Homo sapiens: one gene and its partners. The protein of the gene in region 2 purifies or fractionates together with the protein of the main gene of each other region. This does not show direct contact. Each region holds a gene or a part of one and is shown on either strand. Other genes may lie near its edges. The genes, in order: GOLGA5, KCNK4 and TMEM87A.

Region 1 (3,500 bases), on a different chromosome or scaffold from region 2:
TGACATGCAAAGACCAGTTTATAAAGTCCTAATTCTAGACTAGGAACAACAAGGACCAGCAGCTTTCACGTTAAATTAAAATATTTTAAAGTCATTCTCCTCCATCAAAAATAATTTTTCCTTTTCTGGGTGGTAGGATTATGGGTTATTTCCATTTCCTTCTTCAAACTTCTTTTGTATTCTTCAAATTTTCTATAATAAACATGATCATTTATAACATTTTAAGATTTTTTTTAATAAAAAACCAGAAACCTCCCAACCTCATTCCCCCATCTAGCTACTGTCCTCATGTCCATGGTCAAGTACCCTGCCTCCATGTCTTCAGCTCCCAGCGCACCCCGGAACTCTCTGTTGAGAGGTCCCCAGGGACCTCCTAGTTGCCAAGTCCAGGAATTTAGCTCGGGACTTGTCACATCAGAGCCGCGTGCTGTGGTTGGTGATCATGCACCACTTGAAACTCTCCCTCTGCTTGGCTTCATTGGATGGCATCAGTCTCCTCCTGGTTCTCTCCAATCTCTGACCACTCACCTTCTCAGTATTTTTCTTTTGCAGGCTATCCTTTTGCCCAATTTGTAAATGCTGATGTTTAAGACTGTGTTTTTAGACCTCAGCCTTTCTCCCCGTTAGGTTACACATCGCTCTTGCCTAAACTTACCTACTCTCCCAACTTACTTCTAATTACCTTTCTAACATTGTCACCTCAATGTTGCATCAATTTTGCATACTTACCATAATTCGTCATACTCTCCTTTAACCCTAACCTGTTCTCTTTCCTGTTTCCCCTTTTATTAACACAAGGAAACATCATTCATACACTTAAACCAAAAACCTGGAGTCATCCTGGATTCCATTTGCCTTTTTCCCCCATCCTTCCAGTTAAATCTCCACATGTCATATATTCTATCTCCCACATATCTCTTAGCTGTCCCCTGCCTGCCATCCTCACTGCCAAAAACTTTGATCAGGTCCTCATTATTTCTTATGATCACCTCTTCACCATCTACATGCCATTGATGCCACCCCTTATCACTTCCATGTTTTCAACAATGTACCGAATACCAGGCACTGTGCTGGGGATACAACGATGAACAAGACAGAGGCCCAAATCTCCCCTAACCTTTTCATCAGGCTGCCACAGTTCTCACACTCAAACCTGACCATGGCTTCTGCCTGCCGTTGAACTTTATGAGTCTTTTGCCTCCCATCTCTGAAGACGTTATGTTCCAGCAGTATGGAACTAGCTGCAGTCCCTTAAATATGCCATGTTCTCTCTGGCCCCCTTGCTCTGGCACAGGTTGTTCTCTCGGAAATCTCTTCCCTATCATGAGTCTTCCTATTCATCTTTCAAGTTTCTCTTTATACCACATCTCCTCAGTCCAGTGATCTTTGACAGCCTCAGGCAAGTTTTAAGGGATTCTTCTCTCAAGCTCCCATTGTACTGCATTAATAACCTTATTACGTCAATTATCTGTTTCTTTCCACTAAGATGAATGTTTTCTTAAAGGAAGAGGACACATCTTTTGAGCTTTGTATCCTCTGTGCCTAGTGAGTAGTTAGGTGCTCAATAAGTAACTTTTCAATGAATTAACAAATTAGGGTGATACAAAAAAGTACTTAGAAAGAAGAGTTTGAGGAGGAGATCAATATGATACTTCATGGAAGTAGCATTAAAAAAAGGTATTCATAGCCATTAGAAGTTTGAGACTAAAGAAAAAAGGTAAAGTCAAAAATGACCCTGAGGTTTCAAGCTTTACTGCCACATGGCAGTAACGTTGACCAGAACAGAAGAATGAGGGAGAAGTTGGTCTGGGAGCTGAACACTCCATGCCTGCACAGTAGGCAGCTGGGCACTGAGGTCAGGAGGTCAGGCTTGGAAACATGCTTGAAGTCATATGCAGGCGGCTATTAGAAGCAGAGGCAGCATACAGCAGTGCAAGGTAAGAAAGGACAATGAAAGAGGGTTCAGGACAGAGCTTAGGAGGACTCTGACTCTTTGGAGATTGGGAAGAGCGCCCAAGAGAGACAGAAACAGCAGTAGAAGAGGACAAAAAGAGAGCCAAGGAGATGTGAATAGCATAGAAGGCAGGAGTTCCAAGGAAGTGGGAGGGTTAACAGAGCCAAATGTTCTACCAAAATACAAGGTATGGAGACTAAGAAAAGGACAGAGAATATTTATTTAGGTCATCAAATATTTTTGAGAAGAAATTTCAGACATGTAGTAGGAAAAGAAGGAGATAAGAGTTAACAAGTTCTACAGAAATGAAGACAGCACGTACACAATTCTGGTAAGCATGACACTGAAAGAAAGGAAGATAGGGAAATAGTGCAAAGTGGTCACAAAGCTAAAAGAGACTGTTTTTCTCTTAGGCAGGAGTCCGAGATCTAGTCTTCATTTTTCCACTAAATAACCATGTGCTCTTGAGTAAGCTGAGCCAGAAGGCAGCAGCAGCAGAGAGGCACACACAGGAAGGAAGGGCATAGATCTATGGAGAAAGGGCTTACACATGAGATGGGAGATGGAATCAATGCACAGGCAGGAAAATGATCCTAGAAAAAAATGAAAGGACATGTTTTCCCTCTGAGGGACAAAGGAAAGAGAATTCAAAAACGACATTAGATGACTGTAGTCTTTCTTAGTAAAGTAGAGGGTAAGATCACCTTAGATCTGAAGGAGGGGAAAAAAAGCTGGGTGAGACAATTCTGAGAACTGGATGAGTCCTAAAGCAGTTGCTGCAAAAATTCAATAGGAGATCAACAAGGAAGAATAAACAGCTGCTCAACAACAAGCATTAATATCATCACAGTGAGTAAGGTGACAGGTTGAAGACCTGAACTAGGCAGTGGCAGAATGAATTTTTTTTTTAAAAGAAGTGGTAGGAACAAGAAACACTGCATCCTTTAATAAAATTTCTAAAGTAGAGTAAGGCACCTAAAGCTAGCCAATCAGACGAACATGAACAAAGCACCTCACACAGTATCTACACAGTCTCAAATTGCCTTTCAGTTAACTTGCACATCTTAACATCCAAAAGTGTACATTTCATGCTTACTTGCAGTATTCTAGTAGCTTTTTGCTTGTAGTCAATTAATTCCTGCTTAGAGGACTCCAAGTTCAACTTATACAGCTTGACTTGCTGCTGCAGTTCATCAACCCTCTTCTTCTCATCTGAGTATTTTCTTTCGGCCAGTGTAATTGCTTCTGCTAAATTCTGACGTTCCATTTCCACTTTATTAAGGCGTGCAGCAAACTCGCTCTGTGACAAATTTTTATATCATAATTAATGATATCATTTAGCTTTGAAACATATTTTACAACCATCCATTCGGATATCTTATGGGATTTATTAGCTCAGCCAAACAACATAGTAGGGATGGGAAAAAATTCTTAATTTGTTAGGAGCTAAAGTATAGGAAATGTAAAGTTGTAACTCCCAAACATGGCAATGCATTAAAATCAACCAGGAAGTTTGTTAAAAATATAGCCATCCAAGGCCTTTCCC
Region 2 (4,158 bases):
CAGAAGTGCCTCAGGGAACCCTGACGCACCCCCCCTTCTCCCCACATGGTAAGCATGCATGCTGGGGGAAGGGGCACCTGACCTGGCATTCCTGGTGGCATGGATCCTGGAACCCTCCCAAATCACCTGCACATGTTCATATGCACACTTTTCCAGGGGGAGGGGGTGTGTTCACCATGTTCTTGGGCTTTTCTAAGGCACATGACTCCAAGAAAAGTATGGGAACCGGTGTAGGTAGGGTTGCCAGATTTAGCAAACAAAAATATTGCTTGGGATGGACTTGTATTAAAAAGGCATTTGTGGGCCAGGTGTGGTGGCTCATGTCTGCAATCCCAGCACTTTGGGAGGCCGAGGCGGGTGGATCACTTGAGGTCAGGAGTTTGAGACCAGCCTGGCCAACATGGTGAAACCCCATCTCTACTAAAAACACAAAATTTAGCCGGGTGTGGTGATGAATCCCTGTAATACCAGCTGCTTGGGAGGCTGAGGCAGGAGAATCACTTGAGTCTGGGAGGCGGAGGTTGCTGTGAGCTGAGATCACACCACTGCACTCCAGCCTGGGTGACACAGGGAGACTCCGTCTCAAAAAAAAAGGCATTTGCAGTTTAACTGTAATTCATGTTTAAATGAGAGTCTTGGATTTTGTGTGGCAATCTAGACCGGTGAGTGAGACCTGTGCAAATGTAACATAGCCCATGCGCTATGGCCATTCATTCATTCATTCATTTCCCCCTCATCCCACCACCATCACACCCTGAAGGAGACATTATAGGTGCACAGTCCTGTGCCAGGCTCTCCAGGAAAACAAATGACCCCACAGTTGCCCTATTGAAAACACAGAGACCTGGTCCCCAGCCTCTGTCCCACAGCCTCCCACTGCACCCGTCCTCAGGGATACTGATCTGAAAGCAGCACTGGCACAGGGCCTCACTGGCACACAGCTAGCGCCAGGGGTGATGGGTGACAGCTGAAGGGGCTGCGGCCCACCCACGCACCTTGATGAGGAGGCCCAGCTCCTGGTCGCTCACACACGGATGGGCCCTCAGGAACTTCTCTCGGACCTCCCCCAGCTCCCTCTGGGCCTGCTGCTCGTGGGGCTGCTCCAGGGCCCGGAACACCAGGGCACCAGACACCAAGTAAAGCAAGACCAGCGCCAGCAGGGCCAGGAGCGTGGTGCTGCGCATGGCGCGCCCAGGCGCCGGGCCAGCTCCACTGCCCGCCTGGAGGGGCCGGGCGGGGGGCTCCTGGGGAGCTGTCGTCACTGCGGGCAAAACCAGGGATGCTGGGGTCACTGAGCTGGCCTGACACCCACACCCTCCTCCTCTATCCCCTACACACCCAAAGATCCATAAAGCCCCCAGCTGCACTGTCCACAGACATCCCTCTGGCTGGACACACCCAGTCCCCCTCCTATCTCCAGCCTTCCCCTTACCTCCGCTGCCCGGCCCTCAGCCCCTGTCTGGGACTACCGGGTGAGGAAAGAGAGGAGGGCACCGAGAAGGGAAAGGAAGGCGAGTGGGAGGCCGAAAGAGAGCCTAAGCCTGCCTAGGGGGAAGCGGGGCGAGCGAGGAAATGTGTGGAGCTTGGTGGGGGTGCGGGGAGCTGGCCCTCGAGGAGGAGGCTGAGGGGGCTCGGAGGCGTCCGAAGGGAAACCCGGAGGAGAGGCCGGACAGCGCAAGGCGGGGACAGGGGAATGGTGGGTCCCTGCTCGCCCGCTGCGGCTGTGACAGCATCTCCGCGGCTTCTCCGTCCCCTCTCGCCTCGCCCTGCTTCCTGGCTGGCCCTCCAGGGTGCCCCCGCGCCCCGCCGGGCTTTCGAGGAACCCAGGGGCGGGTCCCGGCCGCCGCACCCAGGCGAGGAGGGGTGCTGGGGACGCCCAGTTCCCGGAAAAAGCGGGGCGGGGGTCCGCAAAGGCCACACCGGGGCGACAGCCCCCGAGACAGCTGTCAGTCCGAGACAGCGGGCGGCGGCGCCCACGCGCACACACGCCCCGGCACGCGCCGCCAAGCGCGGGCACAAAGACCCGCGCGCCCACGCTCCATCCCGAGGCTGCAGCGCCGCGCCGCCCCGCTGCACGCACGCACCCCACCTGCACTCTCCGCAGACGCCCCGGCATCCCCGGCCCCCATGGGCGTGCCGGCCGCGCCAGGGCACCCAGAGCCCACGCACACGTGTGTGGACACTAGCGTGCACACGCCAGACAGCAGGGCCACCGCGCAGCGCCCGCAGCTCGCTCCCACCGCCTCCCCCGCGTCCGCACAGCGACGCCTCGGAGCGTGGCGGGCGGCGGGACCGGCGGCCACACCACTCCCGGAGGCGCCCACGCGCGAGAGGTGGGCACCCCGCCCGGCCAGTCGCCCCTGGGGCGTCCCTGCCCCTGAGTCCTGCCCGCGCACCGGAGCCCGCACCGCACTTACTGTCGGCCCCGCTGCGGCTGCGGCTGAGGCCCGGGTTCCAGCACGGCCTCGCCGGTGCCGACTGGGCCGCGGAGGCGGCAGGGGCGGAGCGGGCGGCCGCCGGGGCTGGGACCCCCCTCCCGCCGGCAGAAGCCCCCCTCCTCCCGCGGTTAACCCCTCCGGCGCCGCGCTTCCCTCCGTGCAGCGCCCTCGCCGCCGGCGCCGCCCCAAGCCGTTTACCTGCGGCCGCCTGGCTCCCCACAGCCGGCCAGCCCCGGGAGGTGGGTGGCAGAGGAGCCGGAGAGGGGTTGCAGCAGGGGCCAGCCTTCTAGCCTTGGACCGGAGCCCAGTGTGGCCAGCGGCAGGGCCCCGACCTGGGCATCAGCTGGCCCGTCTCTCCGGACAGGCACCACGCTAATCTGGCATCTCCCAGGCCCATTACCGGATCGGGAAGGGTCCGCAACTCTCCGCCCCTGGGGACAGCCTGGCCCTTGGGCTCAGCACTCATGAGGGAGGGGCTCCGCGGGACAAAGGGGTGGGGGAAACCCGGTGGGGCCACCTGGAATTGGCCGACGTGGAGGTTGGGACCCACCTCTGGGGGAGTTGCTGCTGGAGCACCTCCTGCCCCCACTCCAGGTTTTGGCCCTCTACCTGCTCCCCGGCTATCCCTCCAGGGTGCTCCCTGCCCCAGCTTTTGGTTCTCACTTCCATGCCCAGAAATCAGCCCCGGAAGGCTGTGGCTGAAGCTGCCTGCAGATCCCAGCATGGCACTGGTGCCAGCATCCACTCTCCCACTGCCTGAACACCCAGGCCCTGGCTGGTCCTGAACTTGCCCCGCCCTGTTCTCACCCACTTGACAACCTGTGACCTCTCCAAAGACCCTCTGGTGCCTGCTGGGGTCCTCAGCCCTCATGCTGGATGGCTTTCAGCCTGGGCTTTGAGGCTGACCACCCGCTACTGGTAGGGAACCTGAACAGGTTACCAAACTCTGGAGTCTCCCTGTTCCCACTTACAGAAAAGGGATGATTAATCATCACTTCGGGGTGCTGTTCTGGGCATTAAGGAGGCCAGTGTTTAGAAATCCTCAAAACAGAGCCTGGCACACACAATAAAGTGCCCCACAAACGTTAGCAGTTTTTATTTCAACAAAAAGTGATTGTCCAGCTTCAAGCTGATTCTCTATGAGTCTCAGATGCCCTCTCTGGAGGCCCTGAGGGCCTGGTGCCCAGGATGGTCCCAAGTAAAGGGTTTTGAAGCAGGCCCAGTGATAAGCCAAGGGAACTCTGAAAAGCTGGGACAACCACCTATGTGGGCAGGGGACAGACCCTCCAGCAAAGGACTCCTAGCCATCAGACAGACCTGCCAGGGCCATGGAAGCAGAGGGCAGTGACTATGCTACTAAGGACAGTGGAGAAGAGGGCTAACGGGAGGGCATAGCTAGGGGACCACCTGTACATCTGGGCAAACCCACGCCCTGGTAGGAAGATGGGGGCTGCTCAGTCACTGCGCCAACTCCCCAGCAAGCCCTGGACTAACTCCTGACTCCTAAAGACCAGGTTGGGGTGGTGATAGGGAAACAGGGCCTCCAGAAAGTCTAATCCATTGGGGTTAAGACTCAGAAGCTGCCAGGCATGGTACCTCATGCCTGTAATCCCAGCACTTTGGGAAGCTGAGGTGGGTGGATTGCTTGAGCCCGGGGGTTCGACACCAGCCTGGGCAACATGGTGAAACCCCACCTCTAAAATTAAAAATTAAAAAATTA
Region 3 (3,719 bases), on a different chromosome or scaffold from region 2:
CAATGCACCCTAAAATTCTACAACTATTTAATAAAACTAAACAAACATGTGGTAATGTCTTCTAAAAGGAGTACTCTCTGGCACTTAAGCTAACTAACCTCAAGAAAAAGAATGCCTCAAGAAAGAATGCAAATAGAAGAGGGATAAATGAAGAGCTGAAATATGAGGTTGATTTCCAGCTACTGTACATAAAATAAATGGTTCTCAACTTTTTAAAAACCACAGATCCTTCTGAGAATTTGACAAGAGCTAAGAACCCTTTTCCAAGTGAAATATACAAAACTTTCTATGTCCACCCATGGCCTTTCAGGTTAAGAATGTCCATTCTAAACAGATCACATTTGAACTCCAAGAAGAAAGTCCCAGACTTACCTGCCACTGCCAAAATAAGCGTGTTGGTGAAATGCCGATACAAAGAGAGTTTTACAATGTTCCTCCGAAGTTTTAATAGCTTCATTGTTTGAGTCAGGCTAATAAATATGTGTTTGCAGGTCAAGGAATTCAACATTCAGGAAAAAACAGTAAGCTAGCCAATTAGTTTTCAGGTTTCTTTAAGGATCTGGGGTCATGCCAATAAACTTATAGATCTCTCAGAGGCCTTATAGCTCTCTTATTCTCACTTAATCTCACAAACACCTCAAGATGAATAAGAAAGTCATCATTTTATTTTCTTTTCCTTTTTTTTTTGTGAGGCAAGGTCTAGCCCAGGCTAGAGTGCAGTGGCACAATCACGGCTCACTGCAGCCTTGACCACTGAAGCTCAAGCGATCCTCCCACCTCAGCCTCCCAAGCAGCTGGGACTACAGGCATGTGCCACCATGCCTGGCTAATTTTTAAATTTTTTTGTAGAGATAAGGTCTCGCTATGTTGCTCAGGCTGGTCTTAAACTCCTGACCTCAACTGATCCTCCTGCCTTGGCCTCCCAAAGTGCTGGCATTACAGGCACGAGCCACCATACCTGGCCGGAAGTCATCATTTTCAATGAGACATTAAAGAGAAGACAGAACCAGAATAAAGTAAGAATGTACAAAATCACAAGAGAAAAAATATAAAAAAGAGAAAGGAAGAGGCTTTCTAGAGAAACAAAAAAAAAAGACAGAAAATAAATAGAGAAATGGCAGAAGATAAAGTGAACATGAGTAACAGGCAAGGGACAAAGAGTTAACATCATCTTCTCTCTCCCTTTAAGGTGGGTAGCTCTGTTCTCATCTGTCCAGCAAATCTAGTTGAGGGTCATAATTATACTCGTGCCTATAATCTCCCAGAGATCTACACTCAGTCCCCTCATGCCATCTTAAGGAACCTGCCATCAGTTGCCTGCACTATCCTGAATTAAGAGGACCTTACAATTGGTTGAGAAGCTCATATGGTTTGCTTCCAAAAGCAATGACTCTCCATTTTCAGAACATTATTCTCAAGTAGAAGTTGCCAGAGAAAAACAGGAGGGGAATTGGTGACTACTAAAAATGGTATCTGCTCTCACGTTCAATGTTCTTTTCTTTTTGAGACAGGGTCTCACTCTGTCACTCAGGCTGGAGTGCAGCGGTGCGATCTCGGCTCACTGCAACCTCCGCTTCCAGGGCTCAAGCAATTCTCCTGCCTCAGGCTCCCGAGCAGCTGGGACTACAGGTGCAAGCCACAATGCCTGATGAATTTTTGTATTTTTTGTAGAGATAGGGCTTCGCCATGTTGCCCAGGCTGGTCTCAAACTCCTGAGCTTAAAGCAATCTGCCCATCTCAGCCTCCCAAAGTGCTGGGGTTACAGGCATGAGCCACTGCACCCGGCTCAATTTTCAGAATGAGAAGCAGATACAAAAATAAGGGATTTGGCACTTGCTCTGCCCTTACAGAGCCGTAGCTGTTACCTAGTCATTGGGTTATCTTACTGTACAATCCATTCCCACCTCCCTCTTCTCTCAACGCTTGCAGAGGTTCACAAAACACTTAGAAAGATACTAATCTAGAAAAGCTTTGGCTATTTAGTCCAAGGACACTTTAACTGAAAACTCTTATACAGCAACCCACTCAAATTCACAAAACAATTTTGTTTACATTCACAGTTTTTCAACAGTCACAATCTATCAGGTCAGTAATAATGAAAACTGCTAATAGGACCAAATATATAAAAACCAAAACAAATTCAATAAGATAAAGTCCAAAAACTTGAATCCTTTAGCCATCAGGCCAAGCCCCTAATATATAAATTTAATTTTAAAGAGCAGGAGAAAAAGATTGCTCAAATAGAAGCTTGTTTGTTATCTGCTGGTTGACTCTGCCTGTAAATGAATCAATTATTTATTCTGAAGGGTGGAAATCTTCAAACAATTCCAAGCCAGCTTTTGAATGAGGCAAGAAAACACTCACTCCATAAGGGTTAAAACCTGCTGAACATACAGAGTTTCAGAAAAGTCAAAGCACCTTACATAGTTCCTGAAATCAAATTTTAAGGATCAAAATCTTTTCATAAGTTTCAAAGCATTTAAGAATTGCTAGAGGCTAAAAGGCAGAGCAGGACCAGCACAGCCAGTGACTCTAACACTAAATGATTAGGTACACAAACAAGAAGTGCAAAATCAAGATGAAATGCTCACTTAAAAGAAAAAAGCCAAAAGATTTTATCTCGAGCTCGGTCCACAGTCACCAATTTCCAATTTGATTTTTAAAATTAAAAAAATAGAAACAAAAAAAACTGCTTACCTGAACCCTCAGGTTGTTAAGACTTAGCATGCACTGTTCCCCACACTAAGGAGTAATTAACAAAACTGATAAAAACTCTTTGCAGAAAGATCAATGGAAACCCATCTCAAGGGGAGAAAATGGACCATCATCAAACAAGCCAATGAGAAGGATATCCACCAGCACAAGGCAGTGTCTAGGAAAGCCAAGGGGATAAAGGCCAAGGAAGCAAGATCAGTCTGGGCCTGCAGACAAAGAAAAAGAAGTGGTGAAAAACAGATGTCTAGAGAGGCACAGAGAAGAAACCACCACATGATTCTGCATTTACATAATCACTGGAAAGTTTTTGCATTGAACTGAAAGAAAATAAAAAGAACATTTGACACCTAATCATTCTTCCCTTCTTATAAACCATCACATAGAATATACAGCTATAAGCATTTCACATAAATTGTCATTTACAATCTCGAAACATACTGCTAAGTACGAGTTTTTCATATATAAAGATCCATGTTAACAAGTGACCATATTCCAAAAAAGTTCTAATGTTTATAAGCCCCATCCTTAATCTATCATTTCCTATTATTGCAATTTTGGCTACAAGTCTGAAAAGACTTTTCTCGTATTTAAAAAAAATTACTGCATCATATACAAAGAATTATTAATTTCTAAAATTATAATATTTTACAAATAAGAGCTCACCCCAAAATAAAATGTAAGGCAATTATCTGTCTGAAAAACTATGCTGCATGTTTCCAGGAGTTTATATAGAGTATGTTTTTTATATAACCCTAATTACCCAATCAACAGGCATTACTGAAAGGATATCCATAAAATAACACAGGCGTCAATTGCTGAGAGGGCCAGGTTTACTATCAGAGTCAAGGGATAAGAAAAATACTATAGCAACAGCAGAAGAAAGAAAATGAAATTGACAGAGGGTTAAAGTTGCTAGAAGTCTAAGAGAATTACATACAGAGGACAGTGTGATTTGAAAAGCAAATGTGCATCCACAAAGTGTTTGATTTAAGAGGCAATTTATT

What was found.
Region 1: the proteins of KCNK4 (region 2) and GOLGA5 purify together in Homo sapiens (affinity purification with mass spectrometry; one large-scale study listed by BioGRID and IntAct). This does not show direct contact.
Region 3: the proteins of KCNK4 (region 2) and TMEM87A purify together in Homo sapiens (affinity purification with mass spectrometry; one large-scale study listed by BioGRID and IntAct). This does not show direct contact.

What each region holds. Positions count from the first base shown.
Region 1 is NC_000014.9:92,811,305-92,814,804, reverse strand, and holds part of GOLGA5 (golgin subfamily A member 5), read right to left. Parts: intron 3,255-3,500; coding exon 3,051-3,254; intron 1-3,050. UniProt on the Homo sapiens protein: Involved in maintaining Golgi structure. Stimulates the formation of Golgi stacks and ribbons. Involved in intra-Golgi retrograde transport.
Region 2 is NC_000011.10:64,290,045-64,294,202, reverse strand, and holds the start of KCNK4 (potassium channel subfamily K member 4), read right to left. Parts: upstream 2,902-4,158; 5' UTR 2,637-2,901; intron 2,482-2,636; exon of another isoform or gene 2,418-2,481; intron 2,206-2,417; exon of another isoform or gene 2,085-2,205; intron 1,262-2,084; 5' UTR 1,185-1,261; coding exon 996-1,184; intron 1-995. UniProt on the Homo sapiens protein: K(+) channel that conducts voltage-dependent outward rectifying currents upon membrane depolarization. Voltage sensing is coupled to K(+) electrochemical gradient in an 'ion flux gating' mode where outward but not inward ion flow opens the gate.
Region 3 is NC_000015.10:42,228,340-42,232,058, forward strand, and holds part of TMEM87A (transmembrane protein 87A isoform 1 precursor), read right to left. Parts: intron 3,577-3,719; coding exon of another isoform or gene 3,505-3,576; intron 2,922-3,504; coding exon 2,853-2,921; exon of another isoform or gene 2,783-2,852; intron 482-2,782; coding exon 373-481; intron 1-372. UniProt on the Homo sapiens protein: Potential monoatomic ion channel gated by mechanical force, implicated in normal touch sensitivity through the generation of mechanically activated currents.